Linked DNA regions of Homo sapiens: region 2 is linked to region 1. The links come from fine-mapping of genetic effects on gene expression. Tissue or cell type: whole blood. Region 1 holds a variant in brackets; the other region holds the start of a gene. Each region is shown on its reference strand, or each on the opposite one. Region 1 has its middle 6.4 kb from the start of TBX21. Region 2 holds the start of CXCR3 (C-X-C motif chemokine receptor 3).

The links. PIP is the estimated chance that this variant, and not a neighbour inherited with it, causes the effect.
Region 2: CXCR3 starts here. The variant in region 1 is the best candidate, but not a certain one, in a credible set for the expression of CXCR3 in whole blood (TOPMed, PIP 0.68).

Annotation. Positions count from the first base shown.
Region 1 is chr17:47,725,433-47,728,333 of GRCh38, forward strand. No RefSeq gene overlaps it. Among named protein-coding and RNA genes, the nearest start is that of TBX21, 6.4 kb to the right of the region's middle. The variant C/T (reference allele first, on the strand shown) is at 1,696.
Region 2 is chrX:71,617,070-71,619,970 of GRCh38, forward strand. CXCR3 (C-X-C motif chemokine receptor 3) reads right to left here and starts at 1,442. Exons shown (of 2, transcript NM_001504.2): 1 at 1,369-1,442; 2 at 1-390. The coding sequence starts at 1,380.

The DNA.
Region 1 (2,901 bases):
GGTTGAGGGAAGCAGAGGGCCAGCTGCTGGGCCTGCAGCCTTCTTGCCCCCACTCCCAGCTCACCCGCCCACTGCAAACACTCCTCAGCTCCCCCACCCCATTCTGGCCCACAGCCCTGGGGAAGCGACATGGCGTTCTCACCACGGACCCAGTGCCGGCTGTGGCTTCTTCCCTCTGACCTATTTTTTAATCATTTGATGGGATTTTTCCCCCCCAAACCAAACCCCCAGCCCCCTGGGCCCGTCAGCTCCACCGCGTGTCAAAACCACCCCTGTCACTTTGCGTTGGTTTCTCAGTCCAGCCAGCCCCTCCCCGCAGGGCCTGAGAGCGATGGCTAATTACCCAGCTGCTGAACGCCCCCCACTCCTGCCCCTCCACCCCTAGCCCTGACAGAGGGGCCCTGGAGGACTGCTGGGAGAAGCTGGGGCCTCCTCACCCTCCCACTGCTTGGCAGGAAGTCCTTCCTGCTGTCTAACCTCCATTCTTCCCTCTGTCCTGCCCCTAGTGGTGCTGAATCGCAGACACAGAGGCTGTTGGTACTATAAGGGTCTTTGGGATACCTCCTTAAGGGACAGAAAGGGGCAACTAGTCTTCTGTCCTGGGTTTAGGGATGTCTTCTGTCACTCTGGCTCTCTAACAGAATTCTAGGGGATGGTCCTTGCTGTCTCATTTTACAGAGCAGAAAACTGCGACACACAGAGGGAAAGGGCCTAGCCCAAGGTGATCTACGCCAGTGGCGGAGCCAGAATCAGAACCTAGAGTTCCATGTTTGTCTTTCCACCTGTTTCTGGGTCCTGTTTCTGGTATGTAGAGGGCCCACCCCCACATACCAACTAGGTCTGTTTCTGTTTCTGTGCAACTCCGCTGCCAGCCCTGAGCAGGTGTGTTCCCTGCCATGCCCTCTCTCCCTTGCCCCCTGGCCACACAGAGCTTCACCCTGGCATTTCAGGGCTGGGCAGCTTGCTTCAGGCACTATTTAGGAATGGGACTCTTTCCCCCAATACCACCCATGCCCTTTTCCCTCTTCCTCTCTCATTCATCCCTAACCAAGTCCGTAAGTCTGCTCTGTCTCACCCGCACCCTGAGACATTAACCAGGTGGACAAGGCAAAAAGCTCTAGGCCAGACACAGGAAGGCCAGAGCCAACTCACAGATGAGGCCTAGTCCCAGATGGACAGATAGACATGCAGGAGATACATGGAGCGCTGGATAGCCCTGGAGACACGGACAGTGACATGAAGATGCAGAGACAGACACAAACACGCTACAGAGACAAGGCAAGTTCCGAGGCCCACAGGTAACAGACAGACACAGAGACGCAGACAGAGGCACAGAACCTACACTCAGGACCAGCGTGCAGACCTCTCACAGGTCCCAGGGATAGGAGTGGACGTAAAGAGGATACACAAGACGCAGGCAAAAACACAGGGACCCAGAGAGGGGCCGAATCAGACCAGAGGAACCCAGACACTCAGGAGCCCTGAGAGACATGGGCACACAGGGCTGCCCACAGATCCCAGGAAGCCAGAGAGAACCTTGGGGAGAGAGGAGGCCCCAGGGGGTGGGTGGCCCTCTGAAGGACAGCGAGGCCTGGCCTGGCAGAGCCTGACTGTGCCAGGAAGTCATGCCAAGATGGCAAGATGGGAAGCAGAGAGGAGCTTGGCAGCGTGGGGGTTAACCCCTCAGCCTGTGCC[C/T]TCCCTCCAAGTCCCTTTTCCTTGGCTCTTCTTTTTCTTCCCTCCTCTCCCAGCTCCTTTTACCCAAAGCCCTGGATATTTCCCGCCTCCCCAGCCCAACTCCTGGTAACCAGACCCTGCTTCCTGCCTGAGATTAAGGGCCTGTCTGCTGAGAGGCAGGAAGGGTGGGGGCACAGCCTCTCCCCAGTGCCTCCTGAAGCTTGGGCTTGCCCATCCATACTGTGGCATGCCCTCCTGATAACAGAGTTACCCAAGTACCTGATGTCTGAATATCCCTTCAGGAGGGCGCAGGAGCCCTAGCCTGGGAGTGCAGCGGGGGCGGCCTACTGCATGCGTGGGTGTGCATGGAGGGTGTGGGTCTTATGTGAAATGCTGGCAGGGGTGAGAGCAGCTAGAGATAGAGAGAGGATAGATGATTCAAAATAAGATGCCACGGAGAAGGAGGACTGAAAGGCACCCAGGCCTGGCCTGGAGCCCAGGGGTAAGGGCCGCTCAGGCTTGGTGGGGGGTGTGTGGGGAAGGGTGACCCAGCCTGCAGATGAGAGCCTGGAGCCCTTGACCTTGGGAGGAGCCCTCTGTTCTGTGTTCACACTGACCACCTGGTGCTGGGTGCTGGGGACTCGGAACTCCTGCAGCTGTCACGGGGCGGGGGGGTTCTACAGGTGCTTGTCCCTCCCCTTCCCCCCTCTCTGGCTGTTAATCTGATGGTTCCGGCCATGCCCTCTGAAGGACTGGCAGTCTGGGCCCAGAGGGGGAGGGGATTCAGGGCACGCGGGGTGGGCAGAGTCAGATGCTGAAGGAGCTCTGGGATGCTGGATGTGGGGCAAGAGCAGGCGGTGGGGCTGCAGGGACTGGATCGCAGAGATTTCCCTAGCATAGCTCTGCATGGGGTGTGTGTGCACATGCGTGGATGATGGCGTGTGTGCACGTGGTGTGTTGTGAGTCTACACCCCAGGAGCAAGAGGGCTGAGGGGGTCACTTTGCTAGGAGCTCTTTGGGGGCAGGGACTGACCCTAATTTATCTTTGTGATCCCAGATCTCCAAGGGCCTGGCTTATCCCAGCGCTCAGGTACCCAGGGAATGGTATATGGGTATCAGGAGGGGAAGCCTGTCCCTTTCTAATATGTGAGTCTTATGAACAGAGGGGCTCTCTTTTGGCCCCAGGCCCTGAGTGGAGGCTGAGGATGGACCTGAAGGACACTTTGT
Region 2 (2,901 bases), not on the chromosome of region 1:
GTTGATGTTGAAGAGGGCACCTGCCACTTTGCAGAGGCCAGAGCCAAAGACCCACTGGACGGCAGCGTCCACTGCCCAGAGCGGCAGTGTCAGCACCAGCAGCGTGTCTGCTACAGCTAGGTGGAGCAGGAAGGTGTCGGTGCTGCTCAGGGCTGTCCGCCGGCTCAGCAGCACGGCTGCCACCGCGCCGTTGCCCAGCAGCCCCAGCAGAAAGAGGAGGCTGTAGAGGGCTGGCAGGAAGGCCCGGTCGAAGTTCAGGCTGAAGTCCTGTGGGCAGGGCGGGGAGGTACAGCACGAGTCACTCTCGTTTTCTCCATAGTCATAGGAAGAGCTGAAGTTCTCCAGGAGGGCGGCAACCTCGGCGTCATTTAGCACTTGGTGGTCACTCACCTGTGAGGGCGGGAACGGGGAGGAAGGGGCTGTGTAAAGGCCTGGCAGGAACTCTTTTGTGATTGAGTCTGATTTAGTCTGTGATTTACTCTGAGCAGCTCCTCCTATAACTGTCCCCGCCAGTCTTCCAGGGCCGTACTTCCTCAACTCCATCCGCTCAGCCTGGGCTCTGGGATAGTGACTTCCCTTCTCAAAGGCTGCTTCTCTCGCATTCTTCTGCGTGATCCCATCGGCCCAGGGACCCCTGGGCAGGAAGAAGAGCGTCCCTCCAGTGCCCAGAGCCCTCTCTGCCCACTGTCCTCTCTCTCCCTGCTCTCCCTTCAGGCTTGCCTTGCGTCCTCAGTGCCCCACCCCCAACACATAGTTCAACCACCTTCCTCCCCAGCGCCTCTCCACAATCCCCTTTTCCAGTCACTAACCCTCCTCTTCCCTCCTTGGCCCTTGTCCGGGGACCCCAACTTCCTGCGCCCCCCCCCACCGTGTGGCCTCTCTACAAGTCACCACGCCCCCCAAATGCATGCAGTCTGCCCAGTCCTTCCCCCTCCCTACACTGAGGCTTGCACGGCCATTTAGCTGCCCACAAGGGGATCCCCCACTTAGCTTGAGAAGGAATCTTCTTTATCCCCTCACCCCCAGCACTATGGACCTGCAGGTCTCCCCAGTACCAATTTAGTCCAGCACGCCAAGAGTCAAAGTTCCAAGTCTCCTGAAGGGAGCCTTCGAGTCTACTTGCCCCCCGCCCCCCCCATTTTGCAGACGAGACACCGAAGCCAGAGAGGAGAGGAGAGGCACCCAGGGTCAGTGGCCAAGCTGGGTTCCCAATTCCCCAGTGCTGTTTCTGCCACAACCCATGCGGCCTCCAGCTACTCACCCAACCCTGTGGTGACCCTGGGCTGTGGGCCAGCCCTGGCATTCCCCTGATGCCCCGGGTTTTCCACTTCGAATTCTGGCCTGGCCTGGCTGGGCAGCAGCACTTACCTCAAGGACCATGGCTGGGCTGGTGCTCTGGCTGCTGGGTGGTGTGCTGCCTGCCCCTCTGCTTTGGTGCTTGTGGTTGGAAACCTGCAGTCACAGAGGAAGTGGGAGTTTCAGGCAGTTCTCAGCAGCAGCCTCTTCCAGGGAGTTACCTCTACCAGACCTCCCTAAACCTCAGGCCACAGAGTTTCCGTGACTGGGTGAAACCTCTCTGGAGGAGCTGGCTACAAGCTTGGGACCAGAAAAGCTGGGCAGAGGATGACTGGCTGGGGGCAGGTCCTTTGAGAAGAGAGGTCTGAAGAGGAAGCAATGCAGCTGAGAAGTGAAGGGCAACCCTACTGCCTGCACTGGTAGGGTCAGTGCTCCATAGATTGGAACTCATCTGTCCTGGCCTTGAGTTGATCTTTGCATGATTGTAAAGGCTGGGTAGAGAAATAAGTCTGCAGAGGAGATCCACCTTCTTAAAAATTTCAGCTAGGTGCAGTGGCTCATTCCTGTAATCCCAGCTACTGGGGAGGCTGAGGCAAGAGGATCACTTAAGGCCAAGAGTTTGAGACCAGCCTGGGCAGCATAGCGAGGCTCCATCTCTACCAAAAATAAAAAAAGCCAGCCGGGCATGGTGGCATGTGCCTGTAGTCCTAACTACTTGGAAGCCTGAGACAGGAGGATTGCTTGAGCCCGGGAGTTCAAGTCTGCCTTGAGATATAATTGTACCACTGCACTCCAGCCTGGTGACAGAGTGAGGCCCTGTCTCTTAAAAAGGGAATTAAAATATTTTTTTAAAAAGCCGTTACACTAAATCTAGCTTTTTACCACCACCTCTCCCTGCTAATCAGTGGGGAAAAAGAAAGGGAACTACCAGTAATGAACTTGCTATGTGATAGACATTGCTTTAGGTGCTTTCTCCGACACTGCCTTATTTCAACCACACAACTCACTTGTGACGTGCGGGGTTATCTGCATGGATGATTCAGAAAGGGGACAGGCCTTCGCCAGACACGGCAATTAAAGGTGGGCGTGAGGATTGATCCCACGGCTGTCTGATTCTCCTTTTCCTACTCATGAACACTGTCTTCAGTTTCTTTTAAGTGAATAAGCTATGATATATTCATGCAGTTAAAAACAAATGAACTAAAGCTACACATTTGAACATGGATGCATCTAGAAAAGCCAACGATCACATGGTAGAAGAAGCAAGTTACAGAATGCCATGTATAGTTTGATGCCACTTACATAAACTCTAAAAACCACCACAAAATCAATACCATGTTGTTTTGGATAACACTGTTGGTTCTCGAGGTTTAAAACAGGGACAGGAGATACCACAAATTCATAAAAGCAGTTGCTTCTCGGGCAAGAAGGAGGATGGGGTTGGGGAGGAGGCCATAGGAACTTCTTGATCTTAAGGAAAAGCTGTAAGGCAGCCTTGGTACAGCACATCAGTCACTTTATGGCAGAGAATGGTGAACAATTCCTCTCCCCACCTGCCCTCAGCTCTCCCCTTTGCCCTCTTCTCCCCTCCCTGTCGCCCTCTTC